Linked DNA regions of Homo sapiens. The protein of the gene in region 1 interacts with the protein of each later gene in a pairwise test. Each region holds a gene or a part of one and is shown in the gene's direction. Other genes may lie near its edges.

Region 1 (7,037 bases):
CCCTGCCTTGCACCTCAGTTGCTCTGTCCAGCCCCACCCCCTTTACCTTTCCTCTGCCACCCTTGTCACCATCCTGCCCTGGGACCTTTGCACTTGCTGTGTTCTCCACCCTGAACACAAACATCATCACTCCCTCAGGGTCTCCTCTTGTCCTCTTGCTGAGGCACACGCTGCGGGAAGAGCATGTCAGGCAGAAAGAATAGCCCACACAAAAGCCCTGTCTTGACCAGGTGTGGTTGGTGGTGCCTGCCTGTGATCCAAGCCCTTTGGGAGGCTGAGGTGAGAGGATCACTTGAGCCAGGATTCCCAGGCTGCAGCGAGCTATGATTGCAACACTGCACTCCAGCCTGAGCAACAGAGCAAGACCCTGTCTCAAAAAAAAAAAAAAAAAAAGCCCTATTTTAGGTCCTTTGGGGTGTGACGGAATGCCATACTCTGGTGGCTTAGAAACAGCATTTATTGGCCGGGCACAGTGGCACATGCCTGTAATCCCAGCACTTTGGGAGGCCAAGGTGGGTGGATCATCTGAGGACAGGAGTTTGAGACCAGCCTGACTAATATGGTGAAACCTCATCTCTACTAAATACAAAAAATTAGCTGAACATGGTAGCGCATGCCTGTAATCCCAGCTATGCAGGAGGCTGAGGCAGGAGAATCGCTTGAACCCGGAAGGTGAAGGTTGCAGTGAGCCAACATTGTGCCACTGCACTCCAGCCTGGGCACCAAGAGCGAAACTCTTATCTCAAAAACAAAACAAAACAAACAAACAAAAAAACAAAAAAAGAAAGAAAGAAAGAAACAGCATTTATTTCCACACAGTTCTAGGGGCTGGAAGTCCAAGGTCAAGGTGCCGGCAGGTTTGGTGTCTGGTGAGGGCTGCTTCCTAGTTCATAGACCGGGCCCTCTTGTTGTGTCTTCATTTGGAGGAAGGGGCAAGGGAGCCTTCTGGGTCCTCTTTTATAAGGGCAGGAATCCAACGCCTGAGGGCTCCAGCCTCATGTCATCATCACCTCCCAGAGGCCCCACCTCCTAGCACCACCACAAAGGGTTAGGATCTCACACAGGAAGTGGGGAGGACAAGCTTCAGACGTAGCCTGTCCAGCAGCAGCAGGAGTGTACCCGGAGGAGCCAAAGGCCGAGCACTCTCTGCTGTATGCACACAGCCTACTAGTTGGTTCAGGGAATGCCTGTGTGTGAGGGGCTGAGCCCACACATAACATGAGGCCAAGCTTGCTGAGAGACCTGCCATGTCCCTCGGGAGAAGGGGAGGCTGGAGCCCTGTTTAGAGAGAGAAAACCAGGCAGAGCCTCAGAGCAGGTAGCCACTTACCTGCAGCCACACAGCCTGGAAAGGACCTCCCAGCAGTGTGAGCCCCCTCCTCTGGGGCTAGCCCCAGCACAGTGGATCCACAGGCAGCTGCCTCCTTCCCTCTCTCAGCACCAGGAGGTCATTTGTCCATCTGTCTTCCCATTCTGTTAGAACTAAAGCATCAGAAGTCAGTGGTGAGTTTCTCGCCAGCGTGCAGGTCCAGTGTACACCAGGCAATTGGTATAAATCCTTCAGCATCACAGCCCCACTAGAAGTAACTATATGTATGGCTTCTGTTATGGCTTTCTAAAAAACAGTGACTTCCTGGGCTCATATAAAAACAGATCCCTGCTTTCCACTGAAAATGTGCAAAGCAGACAGGGTAACCTGCAATAGCTTGAGATCACCATCTCTAACGACCCTGGGCCCACGAGCCAGCATGAACCTCTGAGCCTGGGAGACCCTGGGCAGCTCCTTCACTGATGGAGCCCTGTAGAAGGGGAGCATAGTGAGTTGAATAGTGTCCCCATAATGTGAAATCTGGGATCACTGTTGGCTGATTCTGTCTGGTGAGGGCTCTCTTCCTGGTTTACAGATGGCCGCCTTCTCCCTGTGTCCTCACACGCAGAGAGGACAGAGAGAGCAGAGAGTAAGTGAGCCCCCTGGTGTCTCCTCTTATAAGGACGCTAATCCTATTAAGGAGGATGCCCTCATGACCTAATCATCCTCCAAAGGCCCCACATCAAACGCTGTCACACTGGGAATTAAAGTTTCAACTGATTTTTCCCCAGAAAAGAAAACTGTCTTTCCAGTTATCTTAGCTCCAGCTTACAAAAAAAATCACAGATTAGGTGGCTGAAGCAATAAACACTTATTTCTTCACAGTGCTAGAGGCTGGGAGTCTGAGATCAGAGTGCCAGCATGGTCAGACCACACTGAGGACTCACTTCCTGGCTTGCAGACGGCTGCCTTCTTGCCATGTGTTCACCTGACAGACAGCGAGCTCTGGTGTCGCTTCCTCTTCTTATCAAAACATTAGTCCCAGCCAAGCGCGGTGGCTCACGCCTGTAATCCCAGCACTTTGGGAGGCCAAGGTGGGTGGGTCACCTGAGGTCAGGAGTTTGAGACCAGCCTGGCCAATATGGTGAAACCCCCTCTCTACTAAAAATACAAAAATTAGCCGGGCATGGTGGCGTGCACCTGTAGTCCCAACTACTCAGGAGGCTGAGGCAGAAGAATTGCTTGAACCCGGGAGGCGGAGGTTGCAGTGAGCCAAGACTGTGCTCCAGCCTGGGCAACAGAGCAAGACTCCATGTCAAAAAAAAAATAAAACAGTCCCATTGTGGGGGCCCCACCCTCATGACCCCCTCTAAAGCTAATCACCTCCCAAAGGCTCCATCTCCACAAAGCATCACCTTGGGAGTTAGGGCTTCCATGTATAAATTTTGAGGGGGCACAATTCAGTTCACAGCACCAGATTACAGGGCCATATTTTAAGAGCTGACAGATTCATGCTTTTTTTTTCTTTTTCAGGGATCTTTTAAATTTGTTTTTAGTTCCATTAAGTCAGTGATTCCCAACTGGGGGCAATTTTGTCCCCAGGGGAGGGGACACCTGGCAGTGTCTGGAGACTTTTTAAAGAAAATTCAGACAGGGTCTCACACTGTCACCCAGGCTAGAGTGCAGTAGTGTGATCACTACTCACTGCAGCTTCAACCTTCTGAGCTCAGCTGATCCTCTTGCCTCAGCCTCCTGAGTAGCTGGGACCACGGGTGCACAACATCATGCCTGGCTAATTTTTTTTTTCATTTGTAGAAATGAGATCTTGCTGTGTTGCCCAGGCAGCAGACAGTTTGCTGGTCTCAAACTCCTGGGCTCAAGCAACCACCTGCCTTGGCCTCCCAAAGTGCTGGGATTGCAGGCATGAGCCACCACGTCCGGCCTGGAGACATTTTTCATTGTTACAACTCAGGGGTTGAGGGGTAGTGTCCCTGGCAGCCAGTGTGGAGAGACCAGGGACGCTGCTCAACATCTCACAACACACAGGATGGGTCCCACCACACCAAATTATTGGACCCAAAATGTCATTGGCACAGAGGTCCAGGGACCCCATGCTAAGTTCTTACCAGTTCAGCTGTTAGCCATTTTTCCAGCTCAGGACAAGTGGCAACATTTAATTTTTTTTTCTATCTTTTTCTTTTCAGACCCAGAGAAAAGATGTGAGATCAAGACAGCAGCCCAGGGATCGAGGATGGAGGGACTCTTGAGCGTCGCCCTCCAGGGCGCAGAGTTGGAAGGAAACTGGAAACACGAGGGCCAGGTTGAGGACCTGCAGGAAAACCAGGAAAGCTGTCCAGAGCCAGAGGCCGTGGCCTGCAAGGGAGACCCTGCTGGGGACAGCATGCAGGAACGCGATGAATTCAGCCGAATCCCAAGAACCATATCGAGCCCTGCTGCTACCCAAGCCAGTGTCCCCGACGACAGCAGTTCCCGGAGGTGCAGCGCGCCTGGGGAGAGCCCGAAGGAGAGGCATCCTGACAGCCGCCAGCGGGAGAGAGGTGGAGGCCCCAAGAAGCCGTGGAAATGCGGGGACTGCGGGAAGGCCTTCAGCTACTGTTCAGCGTTCATCTTACACCAGAGAATCCACACCGGGGAGAAGCCATTTGCGTGCCCCGAGTGCGGCAAGGCCTTCAGCCAGAGCGTGCACCTGACCCTGCACCAGCGCACGCACACGGGCGAGAAGCCCTACGCCTGCCACGAGTGCGGCAAGGCCTTCAGCCAGGGCTCGTACCTGGCGTCCCACTGGCGCACGCACACGGGCGAGAAGCCGCACCGCTGCGCCGACTGCGGCAAGGCCTTCACGCGCGTCACGCACCTGACCCAGCACCGGCGCGTGCACACGGGCGAGCGGCCCTACGCGTGCGCCCAGTGCGCCAAGGCGTTCCGCAACCGCTCGTCCCTGATAGAGCACCAGCGCATCCACACCGGTGAGAAGCCCTACGAGTGCTCCGCGTGCGCCAAGGCCTTCCGCTTCTCCTCAGCGCTCATCCGCCACCAGCGCATCCACACGGAGGAGAAGCCCTACCGCTGCGGCCAGTGCGCCAAGGCCTTCGCGCAGATCGCGCACCTGACCCAGCACCGGCGCGTGCACACGGGCGAGAAGCCCTACACGTGCCAGGACTGCGGCGCGCTCTTCAGCCAGAGCGCCTCTCTGGCCGAGCACCGGCGCATCCACACAGGCGAGAAGCCCTACGCGTGCGGCCAGTGCGCCAAGGCCTTCACCCAGGTGTCGCACCTGACGCAGCACCAGCGCACGCACACCGGAGAGCGGCCTTACCCCTGCCACGACTGCGGCAAGCGCTTCAGCAACCGCTCCCACCTCCTCCAGCACCGCCTCGTGCACACCGGTGAGCGGCCCTACAGGTGCCTGCAATGCGGGGCCGCCTTCAGCCACGTGTCCTCGCTTATAGAGCACCAGAAGATCCACACCGGAGAGCGGCCCTACAAGTGCGGCGAGTGCGGCAAAGCTTTCAGCCAGGGCTCCTCGCTCGCCCTGCACCAGCGCACGCACACGGGCGAGCGGCCCTACACCTGCCCCGAGTGCGGCAAGGCCTTCAGCAACCGCTCCTACCTGATCCAGCACCACATCGTGCACACCGGGGAGAAGCCCTACGAGTGCAGCGGCTGCGGGAAGGCCTTCAGCTTCTCCTCCGCGCTCATCCGACACCAGAGGACGCATGCAGACAGTTCGGGACGCCTTTGCCCAGCTCCCACGCCTGACTCAACACCTGGGCTCTCACAGGGAGGAGAAACCTGTCAACAGGGGTGCCCTGGCAGAAACCCGCGTGGACCAGCAGAAGATTAAGAGCTGAGGGCCTCCTTTCCAACCTCACAATGCTATGGGGGAGATACTGTGTTATCCCCGACGCTTCCTGTGAGGAAACCGAGGCTCAGAGAAGCTTGTTAACTTGCCTGAGGGCACACAGTGGGGAAGACACAGGGCTAAGACTGTACCTCACATCTGCCAGACTCCCCTGCGGTCTTCCTGGTGCAAAATTATAAATGGGGCACGGGCAAGTAGACCTGCAGAAACACCTATGGCTGGCCTTTAATTTCTTTCTTTTTTTCTTTGAGACAGTGTCTCTCTCTGTCACCCAGGCTAGAGTGCAGTGGAGCGATCTCGGCTCACTGAAACTTCTGCCTCCCGGGTACAAGTGATTCTCCTGCCTCAACCTCCCGAGTAGTTAAAATTACAGGAGTCTGGCTAATTTTTTTTTTTTTTTTTTTCTGAGACGGAGTCTTGCTCTGTCGCCCAGGCTGGAGTGCAGTGATGCAATCTCGGCTCACTGCAACCTCCGCCTCCCGGGTTCAAGTGATTCCCCTACCTCAGCCTCCCGAGTAGCTGGGACTACAGGCGCCCGGCCACCACACCCGGACTAGTTTTTTTGTATTTTAGTAGAGGCGGGGTTTCACCATGTTGGCTAGGATGGTCTCGATCTCCTGACTTCGTTATCCACCCGCCTCGGCCTCCCAAAGTGCTGGGATTACAGGCATGAGCCACCGCGCCCAGCCTAATTTTTGTATTTTTAGTAGAGGCAGGGTTTCACCATGTTGGCCAGGCTGTCTCGAACTCCTAACATCAGGCGATCTGCCTGCCTTGGCATCCCAAAGTGCTGGGACTACAGGCCTGAGCTACGGTGCCTGGCCAGCTGGCCTTTTCATTGTTGATTTTATTGAGTAAGCCCTTGCTCAGTAAATTTAATTGAATTAAAGTGAATAAAAGGTTTGGTTTCTTTGGCCAAGTTGGCATATTTACTAAAGGAGCAGAGTCTGAAGAAGAAATCTGGATTCACTAAGATAGAAATAGTGCTTAGAGAAAATGAGCAGGAGAAATCTAGAGCTGAAAGTTATTCTAGAAGAAGGGAGTGCTTCTCCTCTACAAAAGATTTTTAGAGTGGGCCTAGTCTTTTTTTCAGTATGAGGAAACACCTACCCATCTCCACCATTTTTCCCCCTAACTCAAAGACCTGACTTTAATGCTTGTATCAGTCAGCTCTTGCTGTGTAACAAACCATCCAGCCCTCATTTATCCATTTACTATTTCTCATGCATCTGGAGGTCAGCTGCTGGTTCTGTTGGTCTGGACCAGGCTTGGTCTGGACCTGGACCAGGAGGGCTCAGCTGGGCCAATTTGATCTTCTTCTCCTGACTCACATCTCACCTGGGTGTGTTCTCAGGGAGGTGGCAGGAGTCTGAGAGGGAGTGGACACACAGGCATGCTTTCAAGTCTCTGATATTGTCACATTTGCATCTAGTCCCACAGGCCAAAGCAAGCCTCCTAGCCAAGCCTAGGATCAGCACAGGAAGAGCCTTCCTAAGCATGTGGTCCCAGGGAAGGGTGAAAAGTAGGAGTTATGAACGTAATCCACCTACTACAATGTTGAATTAAAGTTATAATCTCATAACTTCACATGACTATAATCATTGGAAAATTATTTTATGGGGGAATACACTCATGTAGTCCACAATTTATAAAGTTAAAAAAAAAAACTGTTCTTACTCCTGTGTCTCCCAGCTACCAAGTCCCCCTCACTAGAAGCAAATGCTTACTATATGTAAGCATATATATGAATATTTATATGCATAGAATATTCTGGAAAGATATATAGTACACCTTTCTTCACAAATGGTAGCATATGATATGCAGAATTTTCTTCTTTTTTTTTTTT
Region 2 (7,000 bases), on another chromosome or scaffold:
GTTTTAATTGGCGGAACTGTTATGTTCACTTTGGCTCTAAGTATATAGGATTTGGAATTAGGTGGGCAGGAAGTGGTGGGGAAACTGATAAAGAACTTCAGGGGAAATTAACCAAGGGACTCAATATGATTTCCTCTAACTTCTCTGCTCTTTAATGTCAGCCAGAGCTCCTCAACAATGCTGAAAAGTTGAGATTTTTAAAACTGAAAAAACAAGAGGCCCTGCTCTTTTCAGGGTTAAAGATAATATAGAGTCCTGTAGCACTGCCAGCCTATGTAATGAAATACAGTAAGTCCTCACTTAACATTGTCAGTATAGTTCTTGGAAACTGACTTTAAGTGAAACAACATATATGAAAATCAATTTTACCAGAAGCTGATTGATATAAACAAGAGTTAAGTTCCTATGACATATTTCTGGTCACAAAAACATTATCACACTTCTAAATAAAGACCCAACATACTTCTGATATTAAATATTGAAACAAATATGAGTTATGCATATATTAAAGATTAATGAAAACCGTATAATTACCCCATTTTTAGTGAATCAGTGAGTGATGGTCATAGTAGTGATGTGTTAAATCAAGGGATAAATGTTTGCAAAGTAAAAATTGTAAGGAGCACCTCCTCCCAACTCACAGTTCAAAAGCAAATAGTAACAATTACAGCGGCTTGCTGAATACTTGCATACTGCATCATTGATTTTCATGTGTTTGTATGATTAGCATATACTTTATGAATTTGTATTTTACAATAATTTGTACTCATTCATTTTCTAACGTGCTTATTCCAGTTCAGATCAAGGGTGGCTGGAGCCTGTCCTGGCAGCTCAGGGCACAAAGCAGGACCCAATCCTGGATGGGGCACCAACTCATTGTAGGACACACTCATACACACACTCTTACTCACTCCAGAGGGACTATGTAGACATGCCGATTGCACATCTTTGGGACATGGAAGTAAACTCGAGTATCTGGAGAAAACCCACACAGACATAAGGAGAACATGTGAACCCTACATAGACAGAGGCCCCACTGAGAATCTGCTTCCCCCCCCCCCGTCAACATTATAATAAAAGGACGTTGAACATTCAAGGACCTACTGTACTTGAGAATCCACACGGCTGAGCTGGGGCTTCCTGTGTTGCCTGCATCATGGAAATAAATTAGTAGAGCAAATTGGGACAGCAAACCCAAGTTTCACACTCAGGGTGCCCACGTTTGCTGAGGTGGGCAGTAGATTGATAGCTGGTAACTCTACCAACAGATGCCAGGAAGGAGCCGAGATTCACGTAGAGCTCCAACCCATGTTTCCTGATCTCGTCTGTTTCCAAAATCGCTCATAGACTCCCTAAACTGTCCTTATTTCCCTGGCATCAGCTACCCCCAACTCTGCTACTCCCAAGTATTGTTGGCAAAGGAGATAGGCCCACAAACCACAGCTTGATTTGCCCTAAATCCATGTTTCCCTCAAGTTCCTCTGTACTTGCTGGTTGGACAGGACCCAGCAATTTTGGCTGCCATGGTGACCGATATCCGTTCCTATCTTGGTGGCATGACTGCCTGAGTCATGTCATCTTGCAGGCTAGTGGTTTCCTCAGCTTTAAAATGATGATTTGCCATGCTGCTTCTGGCTCTAAATGCGTGTGACGGAACTAGCCCCGACTGAAGACAGCTACTGTCTTGACATTGGGCAGGGAATGACAGAATGGATAGGCCAGAAAGGGACCACAGGCATCATCCAGGCCAAACTTCTCATTTCATAGATGAGGGCATCGGAGCTACAGCAGCTGAGTGACCTGCTCAGAGTCACATGCCTCATTAGTTACATATGGGTAAAGACAGCTTTGTCTTGATTTTGCTTCTCAGAGTTATTGATTAGTATTATGAGTATTTACTCTAAAAGTAATTGAGTATGCATTTCTCCACTAGACATCATACCGCAAAATGATGCCTGCTTGAATTTTTTTCTTGCTTATCAACTACCTCTACCTCCTATGATGCTTTTAAACACTGGAATTGGGATCCTTAAAGGTAAATGCCTCATAGTTATTTGTTTAAATAAACATAATTCTGAGGCTGGGGGCAGTGGCTCACACCTGTAATCTCAACACTTTGGGAGGCCTAGACAGAGGATTGCTTGAGGCCAGGAATTCAAGACCAGCCTGGGCAACGTAGCAAGAACTCATCTCTACAAAAAATAAAAAATTAACCAGGTGTGGTGGTGTGTGCCTGTAGTCCCAGCCACTTGGGAGGCTGAAGCAGGAGGAATGCCTGAGCCCAGTGGGTTAAGGCTACAGTGATCCATGATCGTGCCACTGCACTCCAGCCTGGGCAACAGAGCGAGACCTTGTCTCAAGAAAAGAAAAGAAATGACTGTGGATTGTACTTCAAAGCTTGGCCAAAGTGTATGATGAATGCAGAGAATCACAAGGTTTAATAGGAGTCATATAAGGGTCCCACAATTTCTCATTGTTGCTGCAGGTAGGAATTGTTTAACATTCTGAGGAGCATTTGCACGTTAGTGGGGTCCCAACTTTGCGGCACAATATATTTGACTTATTTTGACACCCTGCACCTCCTCCTTTTTGCCCTTGAACTGTTCTTCAGAATCAAATTCTGCCATGCAAAAACAACATATTTTGAAGCTCTGTTTCCAGTTTGCTACATAATCATGGCTTATTCACTTGTCAAATAAGCCCTCTAATATATATTGATGGCCTATAAGGTGCCAGATGTTATTCTAGATACTGAGGATGTACTAAGGAATGAAACAGACAAGACAAGTCCCTTGTAGGACTTACATTGTGGAGGGCTGGAACAGAAATAGAACGGATATCCAGATATAGTGATTATCATAGCCAAAAAGTGTTGAGTGCTTTCTAAGTGCCCATTAGTTATCAATGGTTTACCTAGATTTACAAATGTAATGCTCACTGTAATCCAATGAGCCAGACATTATTTTTGTCCCTTACTTTGCAAATGGTAAAATTATATCTAGTAATTTTCTCAACATTTTCTAACTAGTGATTGATGGAGCTGGGATTTGAACCTAGGCATTTGGCTCAAAGTCTATGATCATAAGACAGAAGTGTAATTACAGGAGTCTCCCCCCAATGCATTGGCTGCTGTTTTGTGACTGTACCTGTTTGTAGGAAATATTTTAAATATTCAAATGGCCAGTTGTTTCTACAGCTATTTTTATGGCTTTGAGAGGAGAAAAGAAAAGCCTAGAGCTGTGTCGTCACAGGAGAGTTTTTCCCATCTGTTTGAGACCTCCTTTTTTTCTCTAAACTTAGAACATAATGATATCATTATCCTTATATCATTTCCTCTCAGGTCTTGATTGTTCAGGTTCTGAGGCAGCTGATTTTATGCATATTCATTCTGGCTCAGATGTGGAACAAGTAGCTGCTCACCTTCATTGGCTGTCCTGTGCTCCTGTGTGAATATGGGCAAGTCTTTTGCTCTCTGTGAGCTCCTTAAGGACCTTGGGTGGTGTTGGTAGTACTAACCATCTCGGGAGGTTGAGATTGTTGCTTCTTAAGACTAAGCTACGAAGAGTTTCAGAAAGGGGAATGTCATTTGGCTGTAAAAGTAAAACCGCACTTTGGATATTATTTTCTGATGTTTGATTGCTTTAAAAGACTACATTTTATTCATGTTTTTGGTTCTGCCTTATGTATACACACGGGATCTTTGGATGAGGAGCTTGCCTCTGTGACCCACTAAGGAAATGTGGAATCTATTAACATCTTTGTGCAATCAAGAATAATTTGTTGACTCAACCATTGAAAGGTGAATTGCCACTGGTTGAAGAAATAACATGGAAGCAGTAGCATAGGCTCTTTGCATTAAGAAAAAATTTTTAATTATTTAATATGTCAAGTACGGAGAATGATAGAATACATGTCCTCTACTCATTGCTATGAAACCTCTTGCACTTTCAGTCTCTCTTACCAGCCCTCTTTTTCTACATATCTGTTTCATACTGTTTCACAAGTATATAATTGTTTCATTTACTGTCTTGACCCCCACTAAAAGGAAGATCCATGAGGGCAGAAATTCCTGACTCCTTGATTCACTGCTATGCCCCCATTATCCAGTCATTGTTCTCAGTATTTATTACATATTGCTCAATATTGATTAATTGAATTTTCCCATGTTTGCTTCATTGAAATAGAACACTGTTGGGGTTCCCTCCGCAACTGCAAAGCCTCCCCCAAATCAAATTTTCTTCCTTCCCTAAATCCTTAGAGTAACCTAGAGTAACCAGTATTGTGGATTTGGTGTTTATCATATTTTGTGCGTGTTTTTATATCTTAGTACATGTTTATTTATCTCCATTAGCCAGTATGTAGAGTGTTTGGGAGCTTTTAAGAGTTATTTATATGAATAGTAATATAACCTTTCTGACTTACTGTAAGGGACAAGCCCGGAAGAATAACTGTAAGCCCAGAACTGTAAGGGACAAGCCCAGAAAAGTCCTGATATGACTAGTACACCGAACTCCCCTAAAGACCTCTCTAAGGAGGACTTTCCACTTGCCTTGAATAAATGCTGAAACAAGCAATGCATTTCATGTACCAGACAACAATTAAGCATTAACATCCAAGAATGAACCTATCTAGTTTTTTTCAAAGTTTAAGAACTAGATGCACTTAATATGTTTGTGCCAGAAAATTGGCCACATGTTTGCAGTATTCTCCAAGAAAAGGGGTCCTAATTGTTCAATCAAAAAATGTATTAACAAAGTATAAGTGGCCTGACACTTTGGTAACACTTTTTTCCTTCCTTTAGTTGAGACGGGAGAAGATTGACCTTGAAAATACATTGGAACAAGAACAAGAAGCACTAGTTAATCGCCTCTGGAAAAGGATGGATAAGCTTGAAGCTGAAAAGCGGTTTGTTTAGTCTTGCTGTTCAGTATGGGTGTGTGTGTGTGTGTGTGTGTGTTGCTGCTCTGGGTGTGACTGAGGAATAGCAGTAGGACACCTTAATTCTTTGGTGATGCACATCATTTTAATTGGCCAAAGGAAAAAAAATGTTGAAAGCCTTCTGAACTATTCCCATGTTGGGCACCTCTTTATTCTTTGCTATCATACTGTCCCAGTAGAATTTCTTTTCATTTGGTGTTACAAGGCTATGAGAGAATTAGTCATGCTGCTATTGTTCACCTTTAAAGTATTTTCAAGAATGGTTGCAATTTCAACTTTCCACCTTATTGAACTGGCTTCCTCAGTTGTTTTGTAAAGTACATAGGGTATACTGCGTACTATTATTTATACATCTCTGGAATTTACTTCTTTAGGAAGCCTGAGATTTTAATAATAAAATTGTTTTAAAACCTACTGTAAAGAAATACCTTTACATACTTAAGGCTAGGATTCTTTATATAAAATGTATGTACTTGGAAGTGGAATGTCACTCAACAGCAAACATTTCTTAAACCTCTTTGTGCAAGATAGTTAAGCCCTTATTTTCAAGCACTGAGTACTTTGGAGTGTGTGAGGCAGGGCTTGTAAGAATGGGAAGAAGATTCTGTATGTGGAATGTGTGTACGGGTGTAAAAAGTGAGTTTCTTAAAAATGGTCATTAATCTACTTCACCAAGATCTTTTGTTTGCTACCCAGAGCCCTTCCTCCTTAAGTATTTGGTTTGGATGCATATTTGTAATTGTTTTGAGTTCATGTCTACATTTGCAAAATACAGGCATACCACATAGCTTTAAGAAAAGTGAAAATTAGAGCTATATCTATAAGAAATACTTGTTATAATCATATCCACTATGCTTTACTGATAGGTATTATTGTAGCAGTACTAATAAGTTGAATTACGAAAAGTCATTTTATGTAATAAATGCAGGGACCATTATAATATTTAACACACTAGTTTTCTCAAGGGTAGACCTGGATGGAGGTAACTCAGTTTGCTCCTGGACAAACTCAAAGGTACAAAGCAAAAACAAAACAAAAACCCCAGCAGCTATGGAAAGGGATTTAGAGATCTGCTGCCAAAGGAAGACTTTGTAAAAGGCAGTTGGAGGTTTTACATGTATTAGTGCCAAATTATTGGGTTGAACAGTATGGAAGTTTGCATTTTGTAGGTCAGAGCTATTGAATATCAGTATTTTATATCCTTCAACATAAAAATAATTGGTAAAGAAGGTGGCACTACTAATTATTAACCTAACAATTTTGGTTTTGTTTTTAACTTTTTACCTTTGCTGTGGCCAAAAGCAAAGGGCCGCTAGTCCAGTTTGCCATGCCCTTGCAATTAGTTTTGCAGGAGGGAATTTTAGAAGTTGAGTCTCTGTGTTACTTTACCCTCCAAGGAGATTCATAGTAGCTTAGAAGCTTCAATCAAAAGCCGTAAGAAAATGGAATTTCCTCAGCATCTTCATGCACTAAACCCAAGAAGTTGAACATTGAGTCAGCAGGTATTTCTAAGTGCATACTGTATTCCAGGCATAATTATCAGATCCTGTTGTTAAATAAAGACTTTTCAGTATTGTTTAATTTAAAACATTTAATAGTCATTTAAAAGGAAAAAGGGAGATTAGAATCAGCTCTGCCCTTTGAAGTGAGACACCACGTAAGGGCAGAAGTTTGATGTAAAATGGGCAGAGGAATTAAGCAACCCTGTGAATTCTGGCAGTAAACAGGAGTTTGCTTTTAAAACAAACCTGCCAGCTAGTATGTTGTTTTGTCTTTTCAAGGAAAACTGTTAGTCATTGTTGGAATTTTTCTTTTCAATGAAGAATCCTGCAGGAAAAATTAGACCAGCCCGTCTCTGCTCCACCATCGCCTAGAGATATCTCCATGGAGATTGATTCTCCAGAAAATATGATGCGTCACATCAGGTTTTTAAAGAATGAAGTGGAACGGCTGAAGAAGCAACTGAGAGCTGCTCAGTTACAGCGTACGTAGCCTCTGGTTTCACTAGTTTCATGCCTGTAGAATTAATAACTTTACCAAATATAGGGTATTACCAACATTT
Region 3 (7,037 bases), on another chromosome or scaffold:
GTACTTATTTTTCTCTGAAATGAAATCTGAGACCGGCAGTCTAGAGTTGATACGGCAGCTCCACAAATATTAGAGATCCAGATTCCTTCCATCACTGTGCTCTGCCATTTTTAGCTTATGGTTTCCATCCTCAGGATTTCTTCATGTCTGCATTTCAGGCAGGAAGAAGGATTAATCTAAGGAAAGGGCAAAAAGATGCTTCTCCATGATGTTAGCCTTCTTTAAAGAACTTATTATTAAATCTTTCTCAGTAATTTTTGCCAGCATTTCATTGACCATCCCCAGCTGCATGTCAGTCTCCTATTGGCCATATGGCCACTTCCAGTAAAACTGGAGTCTGTTAATAAGGAAGAAGTAAGAAATGGAATTGGGTACCAACCAGTAGCACATTCTTTTCTTTTGCTCTTAATATATTGTAAGCATTTTTCCTGCCACTGTGTACCACATATGTTTTGAGTGTGTAAGAGATAGCAGATATTTTGTTCCTATATGGGACACAGCAATAAATAAGACAGCTATTGCTTGGCAGAGGCAGGACATGAAATGATGTTGATGATATAATGAGAGTAATACATTTATAAGTTTTATTTGTTTTCAGTTAATTTCATTTGGTTAATTAGTTCCTAGTACTGATGTGTTAAAATTCATGAAAATAATTTTAAGTTAAACTCTTAAGTTTTCTAACTCTGTGAATCTGTGTTAGAAGGGTTTTATTTAACTGAAATAAAAGCTCATAACTGCTTCTTCGAGCTATTTGACATTAACATTCAGAAACAATCTAAATTTTCTCTAGAAAAGAATTTACCTGAAGTTTTAACATTAGAATTTGAAAGAGTATGATGAAAAGAACACTGTACCAGTTATGTTGACTAATTTTGATAAAACAAAAAGTTTTAATCTAATGCTATTACAGTTACTATTGTTTATAGATTGCAAATATATTTGTTCTAATGAACTTTACCCAAATGATATCCAACATGTGGGATTTTTCCTTATAATGACTATACCACTAAATAAAATCATTTGTTTGATCTTTTTCTAATTATAAAACTTTTTTCTTATATCTGAAGTCTGGCCCCTCTGTGGAGGAGCTGGTAAGTATATTGTTTCTGTTTTGCTTTAATATGTCACGCTGAAGTGTTCTTAGTGTTTTATTTGCATATTATATGTTGTCACTCATTGTATTTGAAAATAGCATTAATAATGGCAATTTTTTAATGTTCCAGTACCTGAAAAGTTCAGTGGATGGCCCATTGCTCTTTTCTCACTGCATGTTGTTAAACATTTTTCTTTTGTTAGTGATTTATAGCCATTATTTGCAGAGCCTGTCAATTTTTGACAATTTTTGAGCCTTGTAGCTTGCTCATACCTCTACTTCAAAGAGCAATTGGTTTTCCCACTTCAGGGTATTGAAGATATATCAAGCAGGCTTAGTTTTTAACCCCCTTAAGTTTCTGTTTGAAATTATTTCCAGAAAAGAATGTGCATGTTGGTTTCTTCTTCATCTACTGCGTTACAACTTTTCAAGAGTCTTGAGAATAATCGTATGGCCTTTGAAACAATTGAATTTTGAAATGCTTTAGCAGAAGTTATTTTAGAAAATAACAATACATTTTTAATATTTTTCTCATTACCCCAACCTAATCAAGTTCCAATTTGTCTTATGGCTTTACCTCTTTTGAAGATATAATCTTTGGTATCTAAATGTAAAATGAACATCTTGGGTGTTACCTAGTAACAAACAGGTTAACTAAGAACCAAGAAAATTTTTTTCTGGAAATCTAGAAATGGTTAACTTCAGTTTCCTTCATCTTATTCTTGCTTACCTCTGTTAATTTCGGGCCCAAGAGTTTGTCAGATTCATTAGGGATTTGAATCATTAAAACCCCAGTGAGTGGTAGCTTAGTATGTCTCCCACATTTCATTAATGTAGTATAAATAGCTCATTAAAGTAATTGAAAGTAGGTAATCATCAACATAAAGTTTATTTAGCCCATAAGCCAAAGAAATCTTGGTCTAGGAGTGCTCTTTCAAAAGTTGCATCAACTTTAACATGTCATAAGAAAGATTTTTGTTTGTATCTCCAAACTGGTTTCTTTTGAAACAGATACTTGCCCTTTTAGGACATAGGTTCTGAAATAAGAGTTTAATAATTCCAAAATTATGTTAAAAGGAGGATTCTAGATTGAGTTTTTCGAATCCTTTAAAACCAGTATCTAGAAATTACGTTCTAATCTTTTTTTTCCCAGAAATTGAGTCTGCTAATCTTTCATCTGTTTGTCATATATATAACAAATATTTTTAATCAAAGAAGTGATAAATATATCTAGCATTTAGTAGTTGTCATTAATTTTAGCTTGTATGTGTGTGTGTATATGTAAATATATTTTTTTTAGGATTATCGTATTTATTGACTAGTATTCAAATATATCTATTTTGATGTTGTTCAAAACAGTAGACCAAAGGAGGCACATTAAATTAGTACCAAAATATATTCCATGAATTGCTGAAAATTTGCTTAAATTTGTTTCTTAGCTTCTCAATATCCAGAATAAAAAGGGAAATAATTATGTAAAATAATCAGTGCCCATACAATAGAAACAATACTATTCATCATTTCCTCAAGAGAAACAATTTCTCTGGTGCTAAGGTAGGTTTTTATTTACGTCCTCACAAAAGGGACAAAGGGGGTATAGGGAATAATGTCTTCCACATATTGTGAACAAATGTAACCATGTTTTCATAGGATTTGTGGATTCTGTAAAAGCAGTTCTGCTCAGGATAAATGCAAGTTTTCAGTGTTTACGTGGTTTTTTTGATCTATAAATAACAGTTAAAATGTCTATTGGGGTCCTTATTTAACTCTCAAAAGGGTTTTAGAAGTAAATAGCAGATTCAACTATCCATTGAAGCCACTTTTACTAATATGTGATAACATGAGCTTAGAGTAGACTACTTTTCTTACTATACTCCATATCAGGGTAACCCATGGCGTGCAATTATTTTATCTAGAAGTAGTTCCAAGATGTTATGGTACTAGTTCAAAAGAACTACATCCAGATCTTTGTGTTCCATTTTATAGAGATGATACATTGTTGAACTGTAGGCTTTTGTGCATTTTCAGGAACATGGTCTAGTGCTAAAGAGTTTTTATTTTCATTAAATTATATGCTTTTAAAAATTACATAGGAAAGAGAGCTTGAGGCAAACAAAAAAGAAAAAATGAAAGAAGCACAACTTGAAGCTGAAGTGAAATTGTTGAGAAAAGAGAATGAAGCCCTTCGTAGACATATAGCTGTTCTCCAGGCTGAAGTATATGGGGCGAGACTAGCTGCCAAGTACTTGGATAAGGAACTGGCAGGAAGGTGTGTAAAAAATGGGTATTATTGTACTCTTAAGTGACAAATTGGATATTTAATGAGGTTGACTCTTACTTCTTTCTTTTTTTATTTTTTATTTTTTTGAGATGGAGTCTTGCTCTGTTGCCCAGGCTGGAGTGCAGTGGCATGATCTCTGCTCACTGCAACCTCTGCCTCCTGGGTTCAAGCGATTCTCCTACCTCAGCCTCCTGAGTAGCTGGGATTACAGGTGCCTGCCACCACGGCCAGCTAAATTTTGTATTTTTAGTAGAGATGGGGTTTCACCATGTTGGCCAGGCTGGTCTCAAACTCCTGACCTTGTGATCCATCCACCTTGGCCTCCCAAAGTGCTGGGATTACAGGTGTGAGCCACCGCACCTGGCCTACTCTTTTTTCTTATGGTAAATGAAGCATTAATCTTTTTCCTCAGAATTATTTTACAGTTGGTTTTAACTTACTGTTGTTAAATTAATACTGACAGCATTATGTATCGCAGATCTAGTTATCCATACTAAATATGTTTAGTTTACACACACAAACACTGATAGTATCTTACTGTGAAATGCTAACAACTCTGTAGAGCAGCACTTTTCAACTATTTTGTGCCTTGAGACCAGTACAGCCGATATTCACATGCATAGCAGAACTTCCATAAGGAATTCTTTTTATGATCACTGAAACCCAGTCTTTCTTGCCCTTCAAAAAAACGTGTTGGTATTTAGTTAATGACAATGATTTTATCATAATCATACACAGAATTCTGCTGTATTTATTAAGTAAATTATTAACAAACTTTGGTGACTTATTAGTACTAAATCATTTTGTGCATATTCTTTTAATGTCACATTAAAAACATGGAACAAAGAAAAAATAATTTATATCATCTTGAAGTACAAATTTTCTAGTAACTTTTTTTTTTTTTTAAATTTTGTGAGATGGGGTCTCACTCTGTCGCTCAGGATGGAGTGCAGTGGTGCAACGTTGGCTCACTGCAGCGTCCACCTTTCAGGCTCAAGTGATCCTCCCACCTCAGCCTTCCAAGTAGCTGAGACCACAGGCATGCCACCATGCCTGGTTAATTGTTAAGGTTTTGCCTTGTTGCCCTGGCTGGTTCTAGTAACTTTTAACCACATTTAAAGTAATCATTTTGTGAAAAGAAACTCTAATTAGAAGAAATATTTTTGTCCATTTATCTCATCTAAAAGCTAACATTTAATAGTATCTGAGTTCAGTGACTTTGCATGCAAGACATAGATTGACATTAATCTCATAAATTTTTTTTTAGATTTATTTGAATTAAGTATATGACTAAAGGAGTTCACATTAATTCCTTTAAAAATTTTTTTTACTGGTTTTTCCCTTGAGGATACCTGTTCTTTTCAGAGTTTTCATATTTTTTTTATATCTGAGAGACATCAAGAAGTTCGTGAGTATTAGTTTTATCACTAATTTGAGATTCATGCAAAAGCTACTTATGTTCACTAATTTTCCTGAATTCTCACTGTAGTGAATATAATGAAAAATCAATGTACTCTTTTCCCAATATGAAGGGTCCAACAGATACAATTGCTAGGACGAGATATGAAGGGACCTGCTCATGATAAGCTTTGGAACCAATTAGAAGCTGAAATACATTTGCATCGTCACAAAACTGTGATCCGAGCCTGCAGAGGACGTAATGACTTGAAACGACCAATGCAAGCACCACCAGGCCATGTATGTTTGCTTTGCTGCTGCTTCCCACCCAGCCTCTTCTTTCTTTCTTTAATCACAGTTGCTTTCCATTCTTTCCTTTATTCTAGTATTGTTTGAAACCTTTATTTAAAAGTGAAAATGGGATTCAACTTATTCAAAGTAGATGAAGTTTCAACACCCATAGAAATTTTAGTAGCTCTTCACAGACTTACTAATGCCCTGAGAGTGCTGCAGACAGTGAGCCATTGTTAGCAAATGCATATTGCTATAATGTTGGATCATATTTCCAGTTTTTCCTGGATCATGATTGGGCATGCTTGAATTTGTTTTAATCTTAGCTTAGAGTGTGTGGTCATATTGATAATTTGGCAGATATTTTGGGGTAGTTCTTTAAGGGAACTTTTAGTAACTGAATCCAAATGTAGATTCTGAACTAACATTTACACCTGTTTGGTCTTGGATTAAGATAGAATTTGAGATCTGTAGCCAGTTGTCTGCTTCTGTAGCCACCATTATATAAAAGCTTCTATCTGGATAAATCTTTATTGAATTTTATCATAACAGCTGCTTGATAATATAGACCTTAATATATGAAAGCATGTCTCCCAAGGGTTCACATATCTTAGTACCAGATAATGTATGGCCTTAAATAGTAAAATAGTTTGTTGGCTCTGCAAAGATTTTTGTAAGAAGAATTGGTATGTAAATAGAGTTGGTGGAAGAGAAGTGGGGATAGCGATAAGCACTTATGCCATTGTTTTCTAGGGCACTGGTGGTTCCCATTAACTTCTAGGTCCAGTAGATTTGGGAAATGGAGCGGTTAGGAGGAAGACAAAGTAGTTTGTATCAGATGTGTCTGAGTGATAAAAGCATGCTTGTTAAATTAGCTAAATATGAGGTTGGGGTTTTAGGTAGTGGCTGGATTATAGAAATTATTTTATACTAAATAGAGGAATTTTAACTTTAACCTGATAATCATGGAAGTTTTAAATAAAATGGCAGACTTCATAAAATTTACATTTTTTAATAGTTATTTTGGTATAGTGAAGAGGACCAAGTTGGAGTCAAGGAGATATATTAGAAAGATACTATGGTCATCCAAGGAGAAAGTGATGAGGTCAGGAGAAGTGGCATTTGAGAAGAAGGATAGATTTGAGAGGATTATAATCAGGAGGGCTTGATTGGTGACTAACTGCTTTTGGTTAAATAGTGAAAAAGAAGAGTCTGGGCTTTTAGTTTGAGCAACTGAGTGAGATCTGGCATTCACTGGGAAGGGAAATAGAAGAAAAGGAAGGATTTGGGGAAAAGATGATGAGATCAGTTTTAGACAAGTAGTGTTTGAGGTGACAATGGGGTATCCAAGATACATCCAACTGGACATATGACTCTGGATTTCAGAAGAGAAATCTGTTTTGAAGAAATATTAGGGAAACTATCCTTCTATTATACTTGAAACCTTGGAACTCATTAAGCCTGTTCCAAGTATATATGTATATATAAAGTATATATGTAGTAAAAAGAATAGGAGGCCAAGGATAGAAACTTATGGAGTGGGAGAAGGAAAAGGATCACTAAAGGAAGGAGCCTGGGATGGAGCTGTCAGATACAGGCCATCTAGGAAAGTAGTGTAATAAAAACTAACAGAGAGAGTGGGTTTCAAGGAGGGGTTGATGAACAGTATCAACTTTCTGCAAGTTTGAAGTAGGATAGTGACAAAAAGTGTTAATTGTGTGTAACAATATTGATTACTGGTGACCACAGAAAAGAAAATTCCAGTTGTGCATGTAGGGGCAAAACTCTAATTACAGAGACCAGAGGACTGAATGTGAGTGGCAAGGAAGTAGATATGATGAGGATGAACTTCGTGTAGAGGTTAAGGAAAGGGGGAGGATGGTAGTTGCTAAGGAAGATAGTGAAGGATTGAAAGGTTTTTTGTTTTGTTTTGCATTTGCACATGATCAGTATTTTAAAACTGGAAGAGGC
Region 4 (7,037 bases), on another chromosome or scaffold:
CATTCATAGTCAAAGCCACTTTATCCTCTGGGATCCAGAGTGTCCTCTGCAGGGATGCTTTTGTAGGTGGCCCCTGTTCTCTCGCCTTCCCCCAACACATAGACACCCCTGGACGTGGGACCTGCTTTGCTAGAGTCTAGCTGCACCCTCTCTAACTTCTCTCCTCCTCCCTCCTCCATTGATAAAAACAGATTTACCTCTCAGTCTTGTCTGCCATTCAGTGATAGTATCACTCACATTGGTAAGACTCGGTAAGTGTTAGAATTAAATTAGTCATCACGGTAACCCTGTGCATTAGGGAAGTCAAGATGCTTTCAACCTTACTCTATACATAAAGATTCTAGCTCTGGAATCTGCCACAAGTTTTGAGTAATGAAGTATAAACTAAGAAGGTCCCTTGAATTGTGTAGAATAGAACAGCACTGTGAGCTGCGGGTGTCCTGGTGACTGCTCTGAGCTTGTAACTCAGGCTGATCTTAAAGGCACAAAGAGAAATAGGTCGGCCTCAGTGCCTCAGTGTATTAACCTTGTAACAAGTGCCAGGCAGGAATGTGTTCAAGAGCTGCAGGGTTGCACTGCCCTTAAATGGGGCTGGTGGAATGGTCTCTTCAACAGTACATATCAAGGAACAAAAGGGAAAGAGAGCCTATAGGTTAAGATATTTAAGAGACATAGCAACCATATACAACATGTAGACTTTGTTTGAAGCCTAATTTGAATGGACTGACCAGAAAGTAATTAAACAAATATATATGTGTGTATATAAATGTGCATATATAAGTACATATATGTTTCTATAAAAGAATAAGAGTTAATCGTTTAGGTATGACAATGTGACAATGACATTATGGTTATGTTTTTTTTTTTTTTTCGAGACAAAGTGTTGCTCTGTTGCCCAGGCTGGAGTGCAGTGGCTCAATCACTGCTCATTGCAGCCTCAACTAACTTCCCCAGGCTCAGGTGATCCTCCCATCTCGGCCTCTGGGACTAAAGGCGTGTGCTATCATGCCCAGATAATTTTTATTATTTTTTTGTAGAGATGGGGTCTTACTATGTTGCCCAGGCTGGTCTCAAACTCCTGGGCTCAAGCGATCTGTCCACTTCAGCTTCCCAGAGTGTTGGGATTATAGGCGTGAGCCACTGCACCTGGCACAATTATGCTTTTTTTTTTTTTTTTGAGATGGAGTTTTGCTGTTGTTGCCCAGGCTGGAGTGCAGTGGTGCAATCTTGGCTCACTGCAACCTGCGCCTCCCAGGTTCAAGTGATTCTCCTGCCTCAGCCTCCCAAGTAGCTGGGATTACAGGCAGGCACCACCACGCCTGGCTAATTTTGTATTTTTAGTACAGACGGGATTTCACCATGTTGGCCAGGCTGGTTTTGAACCCCTGACCTCAGGTGATCCACCTGCCTCAGCTTCCCAAAGTGCTGGGATTATAGGCGTGAGCCACTTTGCCTGGTCACAATTATGCTTTTTAAAAATATGTCATCTTCTAAAGATTACGGTTAGATGTTTTTGAGTCAAAGGATGAATTAGTATTAAAATAATCTACTATGGCGAGCGGTGATATAAATGAAAACAAAATTAGTTACGAGTTGGTCAAAGCTTGGTGTTTGGCACATGAGGGTTTATTACACTATTATTTTCACTTTGGTATGTTTACATTTTTCTGTAATAAAAAGGTTTTTAAAAATTCTCTTGGCGGCCGGGCATGGTGGCTCATGCCTGTAATCCCAGCACTTTGGGAGGCCGAGGCAGGTGGATCACAAGATCAAGAGATCAAGACTGTCCTGGCCAAGATGGTGAAACCCCACCTCTACTAAAAATACAAAAATTAGCTGGGCGTGGTGGTGTGTGCCTGTAGTCCCAGCTACTTGGGAGGCTGAGGCAGGAGAATCACTTGAACCCGGGAGGTGGAGGTTGCAGTGAGCCGAGATCACACCCCTGCACTCCAGCCTGGGTGACAGAGCAAGACTCCATCTCAAAAAAAAAAAAAGAAAAGAAAAGAAAATTCTCTTGACCAGGCACAGTGGCTCACGCATGTAATCCTAGCACTTTGGGAGGCCAAGAGGGGCTGATCACCTGAGGTCAGGAGTTCTAGACCAGCCTGGCCAACATGATGAAACCCTGTTTCTACTAAAAATACAAAAATTAGCCAGGCGTGGTAGTGGGCACCTGTAATCCCAGCTACTTGGGAGGCTGAGGCAGGAGAATCGCTTGAACCTGGGAGGCAGAGGTTGCAGTGAGCCAAGATCGTGCCACTGCACTACAGACTGGGCAATACAGCAAGATTCTGTCTCAAAAAAAGAAAATTCCTCTTGAAGTAGCCAAAGAATTCTTGGCTAAAAATAAATAAATAAATAAATATCCTCTTGAAGGAACTAGGGAGGGAAGTAACTGAAGAGACATTGTGTTTGCTGTGTTTGACAGAGTCTGCAGAAGGCTACAGATGTGAAAGATGTGGGAAGGTATTTACCTACAAATATTACAGAGATAAGCACCTCAAGTACACCCCCTGTGTGGACAAGGGCGATAGGAAATTTCCCTGTTCTCTCTGCAAACGATCCTTTGAGAAGCGGGACCGGCTTCGGATCCACATTCTTCATGTTCATGAGAAGCACCGGCCTCACAAGGTGAGTATTAGGAGGACACATGACCCACCATCACGTTCTCTCTCCCTTCCCAAGCTCCTGAACACGGGGAGTTGCCTTGTAGGTGCTAGCTGCAGGGCTGTGATGCCTGACGGACACCCTCTCTGAAGGAGGAGAGGATAGTATTACGGAACAGGCAGGCGTGAATAGGCACAGCGATGCACATGTGTTAGGATGCAGGTACCCACAGAGGGAGGAACATGGAGGAAGGAGTGTCCACGGCCACCTGGACACGTGGATTATGAAAGATGCACAGAGGTGGCCTTGAGCCAAGTATAGAAGGACAAATGGGGTGTCTGATTTATACTGGTGGCAGGGTTAGTTGGGCAGGAAAGAGTCGAGCTGTTCCAGACAGGAGAGAGCCTGGCATGTGCTCCTGGGGAACTGCGCCTTGTTCCAAATCTGTGCAGGTGTGTTGACAGGTATAGGTAAGAAGGAAGTGAAGGCACGGTCCTTCCAAGGAGCGGAAGGCCTCTACAGTGGGCCGAGGATTTTGTAAGACAGAAAATCAGTAATGACATTACGGAGCCATTCCAAATACCTGGATGCTCTGCTAGGCTTGCTGCAAAAAAGTACAATATTCCCTTGGGCTTAATTAAAAGGAGGACGAGGCTTGGGCACAGATGTATTCTTGCTTGACTGTTGGCCTTGTCGGAACTACCTCAGGCAGCTACGACCTTGAGCCCATTTTCCTGTTTTGAAAACTGAGAATAAAATCATCATAAAATTGTCCTAATTTCTCCCTTCCTTCCTAAGCTTCTGGAAAAGTCATGTTTAATCACTATATTATATACTCCTATAAAATTTGAATACATTTACAGTTATCATGCATTTGTGTAATTCTAAAAGGATTTAAAAATATCAGGACGGTGAAGGTATTTCTCGCTTATTAGACTGGCAAAAGTGAAAACTATCCAGTATTCTGATAGTGAAAAGTTTGAGACTGCATGTTCATCAACACAAAATTGATTATATAAATTATGGCTTACTGGCCAGGCGCAGTGGCTCACGCCTGTAATCTCAGCACCTTGGGAGGCTGAGGTGGGCAGATCACCTGAGGCCAGGAGTTCGAGACCAGCCTGGCCAACATGGCGAAACCCCATCTCTACTAAAAATATAAAAACATTAGCCGGGTGTGGTGGCAGGCACCTGTAGCCCCAGTTACTCTAGAGGTTGAGGCAGGAGAATTGCTTCAACCCCAGAGGCGGAGGTTGCAGTGAGCCGAGACTGTGTCATTGCACTGCAGCCTGGGTGGCAGGAGTGAGACTCCATCCCAAAAAAAAAAAAAAAATATTGTCTTATCAAGCAAAAACCAAATTACAGAAGATGTATAGAATGCTTGCTCTCTTTGAAATTGGAGGCCGGGAGTGGTGGCTCACGCCTAATCCCAGTACTTTGGGAGGCCGAGACAGGTGGATCACGAGGTCAGGAGATCAAGACCATCGTGGCTAACATGGTGAAACCCCATCTCTACTAAAAATACAAAAAATTAGCCAGGCGTGGTGGTGGGCACCTGTAGTCCCACCTACTCGGGAGGCTGAGGCAGGAGAATGGCGTGAACCTGGGAGGCGGAGCTTGCAGTGAGCCGAGATCGCGCCACCGCACTCCAGCCTGGGTGACAGAGCGAGACTCCGTCTCAAAAAAAAAAAAAAAGAAAAGAAACTGGAGGGCTGTCAACCAGGAGGTCAGTAGATGACAGGACTGATGAGGAAGCTGGTGATAGTGAGATGATGGCTTACCCTTCAACAGACGAGGTGCTCTTACAGTACAGTGGAGGAACAATCTTTTTTTTTTTTTTTTTTTTTGAGACAGTCTCACTCTGTTGCCCAGGCTAGAGTACAATGGCATGATCTCAGCTCACTGCAACCTCCACCTCCTACGCTCAAACAATCACCCAACCTCAGCCTCCCAAGTAGCTGAGCTGAGGCTATAAGTGCATGCCACCATGCTCAGCTAATTTTTTGTATTTTTTGTAGAGATGGGCATGTGGTGCGCACCTGTGGTCCCAGCCACTCGGGAGGCTGAGACACCAGAATTGCTTAAACCCAGGAGGCAGAGGTTGCGGTGGGCCGAGATCATGCTACTGCACTCCAGCCTGGGCAACAGAGCGAGGCTCTGCCTCAAAAATAAATAAAAATAAATAAATAAACAAATACAAAGATTTGCTCTCTCCTCTGCCCCATAAGCATGCCTGGAAAGAGGTTGTGAAAGCACAGAAACCTTTCTCAGAGAAAAATTGTTTTTTCTCTTTAGTTAGTGTAATTTCCTTAAAAGTGATGTCAAAACCAAAGGCCTTCTGCTTTATCCCTGGCAAACTCTCGGTGCTTGCACCTCTCTGGTAGTTTACTTCACCTGGTGTAGAATTCCTGAGACAGTTTCGAGAGGAGTTGCCAGGGTCAAGAAACAATATTAATTATTCACAGCGTGTGAACAAAATATTAACCTCTTCATGCAAGTTCAACACGTCTCAGATAATCTGCTACTGTGCATTACCATGTTGGCTTACATGTTCATCGTCACCCCTCCTTGATTTCTAGCTCCTGGTTTCTAGCAGTGTGGAGCACACAGTAGGTACTCTGTAAGTCGTAGATAATTGTTGAGTTAATTGCACAGTACTTGTAGTTTACTCATAGCTCTGTGAGGAAGGCAGAGCAGGTATTTTGCCCATGAGCAAGATCGGGAAACTAAGATTCCAGATTTAACCAATGTTCTGTAGTCACACAGCTACCTGTTGAGAGAGCAGGACTAATTCAGGCCTCTGCCATATACCACAAACCTGTTCAGTTCCCACATTCCACATCTGAAGCAAGAGTTCTCTCAGGTCGGGTGCCGTGGCTCAAGGCTATAATCCTAGCACTTTGGGAGGCCAAGGCAGGAGGATCTGTTGGAGTTCAAGACAAGGCTGGGCAACATAGTGAGACCTCATCTCTACAAAAAAAAATTTTTTAAGTTAGCTGGCTTAGTGGCACGCACCTGTAGTCCCAGTTACTCAGGAGGCTGAGGTGGGAGGATCGCTTGAGCCTGGGAGTTCCAGGCTGCAGTGAACCGTGATTGTGCCACTGCAGTCCAGTCTGGGTAACAAATTGAGATCCCGTCTCAAAAAAAAAAAAAAGAAAAAAATTGGAAAAGAGTTCTTCTCTAACCCCAGGTAAACGCAAGGTTGAAATGGACTTGTTAGAGGAAGGTGTGATTTCAACTATATTTTTCTTTTTCACCTTAGTGTTCTACATGTGGGAAATGTTTCTCTCAATCTTCCAGCCTAAACAAACACATGCGAGTCCACTCTGGAGACAGACCATACCAGTGTGTGTATTGTACTAAGGTAAATGGAACCTCTTACTAAGGGATGTGTCCTGAGCTCTGCTTGAGTGTCTATGGATAAGAACTTGAAACAAAGCCTGGCTTAATGAGTTCTTGGTAAATGTTAGTCAAATATCAGCCCAGTCCTCATTTCCACCCCTAAATATGCTCAAGTTTGCTAAAGATGGTCAAATATAACCAACCTCCTATTGCCAAGCTGGCATTTAGAGTACATGTAATAAAATACATTCCAAATTTATGGGGACCTGATGACCTATTACATAGTATTTAAAAGCACTAGCTGAGTGTGGTGGCTCACACCTATAATCAAATTTTCCATGCATCGGTGGCTTATGCCTGTAGTCCCAGCTACTTGGGAGGCTGAGGCTGGAGAATTGCTTGAGTCCAGGAAGTGGAGGTTGCAGTGAGCCAAGATTGCACCACTGCACACTCCAGCCTGGGTGACAGAGTGAGACACTGTCTCAAAAAAAAAAGGAGGGGGTGGGGAGGCGTGGTGGCTCAAGCCCGTAATCCCAGCACTTTGGGAGGCTGAGGTGGGCAGGTGCCTGGAGATAGGGAGTTCGAGACCATCCTGGCCAGCATGGTGAAACCCCATCTCTACTAAAAATACAAAAATTAGCTGGGCATGGTGGCACGTTCCTGTAATCCCAGCTACTTGGGAGGCTGAGGCAGGAGAATCACTTGAACCCAGAGGCAGAGGTTGCAGTGAGTCAAGATTGTGCCACTGCACTCCAGCCTGAGTGGCAAAGTGAAACTCCGTCTCCAAAAAAAAAAAAAAAAAAAAATCACTATTTCATAGTATTTAAGAACACAAACATGGCCAAGTTTCAAATCCTGCCTCTGGTGCTTACCTAGCTGTGCCACCCTGAGCAAGTCCATGAACTCCTGTTAGTTTCCACATTGATAAACTGGGGAGAATAGTCTTTACCAAGTTGTTGGATAACATCAGTAAAGTATATAAAACTCTTGTAACAGTGCCTGGCATAACATAAAAGTACTACTGGAATGTTAACTGCTATTATTACTACTTTAATCTGTGAAGGATGCTACTGATGTAATTTTCTATA

Evidence for each region.
Region 2: the proteins of ZNF835 (region 1) and CCDC6 interact in binary tests that used the Homo sapiens proteins (3 or more experiments, as listed by UniProt).
Region 3: the proteins of ZNF835 (region 1) and GOPC interact in binary tests that used the Homo sapiens proteins (3 or more experiments, as listed by UniProt).
Region 4: the proteins of ZNF835 (region 1) and PRDM14 interact in binary tests that used the Homo sapiens proteins (3 or more experiments, as listed by UniProt).

What each region holds. Positions count from the first base shown.
Region 1 is NC_000019.10:56,661,721-56,668,757, reverse strand, and holds the end of ZNF835 (zinc finger protein 835), read left to right. Parts: intron 1-3,512; 5' UTR 3,513-3,559; coding exon 3,560-5,173; 3' UTR 5,174-6,778; downstream 6,779-7,037. UniProt on the Homo sapiens protein: May be involved in transcriptional regulation.
Region 2 is NC_000010.11:59,812,557-59,819,556, reverse strand, and holds part of CCDC6 (coiled-coil domain-containing protein 6), read left to right. Parts: intron 1-4,801; coding exon 4,802-4,905; intron 4,906-6,761; coding exon 6,762-6,922; intron 6,923-7,000.
Region 3 is NC_000006.12:117,571,505-117,578,541, reverse strand, and holds part of GOPC (Golgi-associated PDZ and coiled-coil motif-containing protein), read left to right. Parts: intron 1-1,070; coding exon 1,071-1,094; intron 1,095-3,189; coding exon 3,190-3,365; intron 3,366-4,909; coding exon 4,910-5,075; intron 5,076-7,037.
Region 4 is NC_000008.11:70,054,234-70,061,270, reverse strand, and holds part of PRDM14 (PR domain zinc finger protein 14), read left to right. Parts: intron 1-2,428; coding exon 2,429-2,631; intron 2,632-5,869; coding exon 5,870-5,971; intron 5,972-7,037. UniProt on the Homo sapiens protein: Transcription factor that has both positive and negative roles on transcription. Required for the maintenance of embryonic stem cell identity and the reacquisition of pluripotency in somatic cells.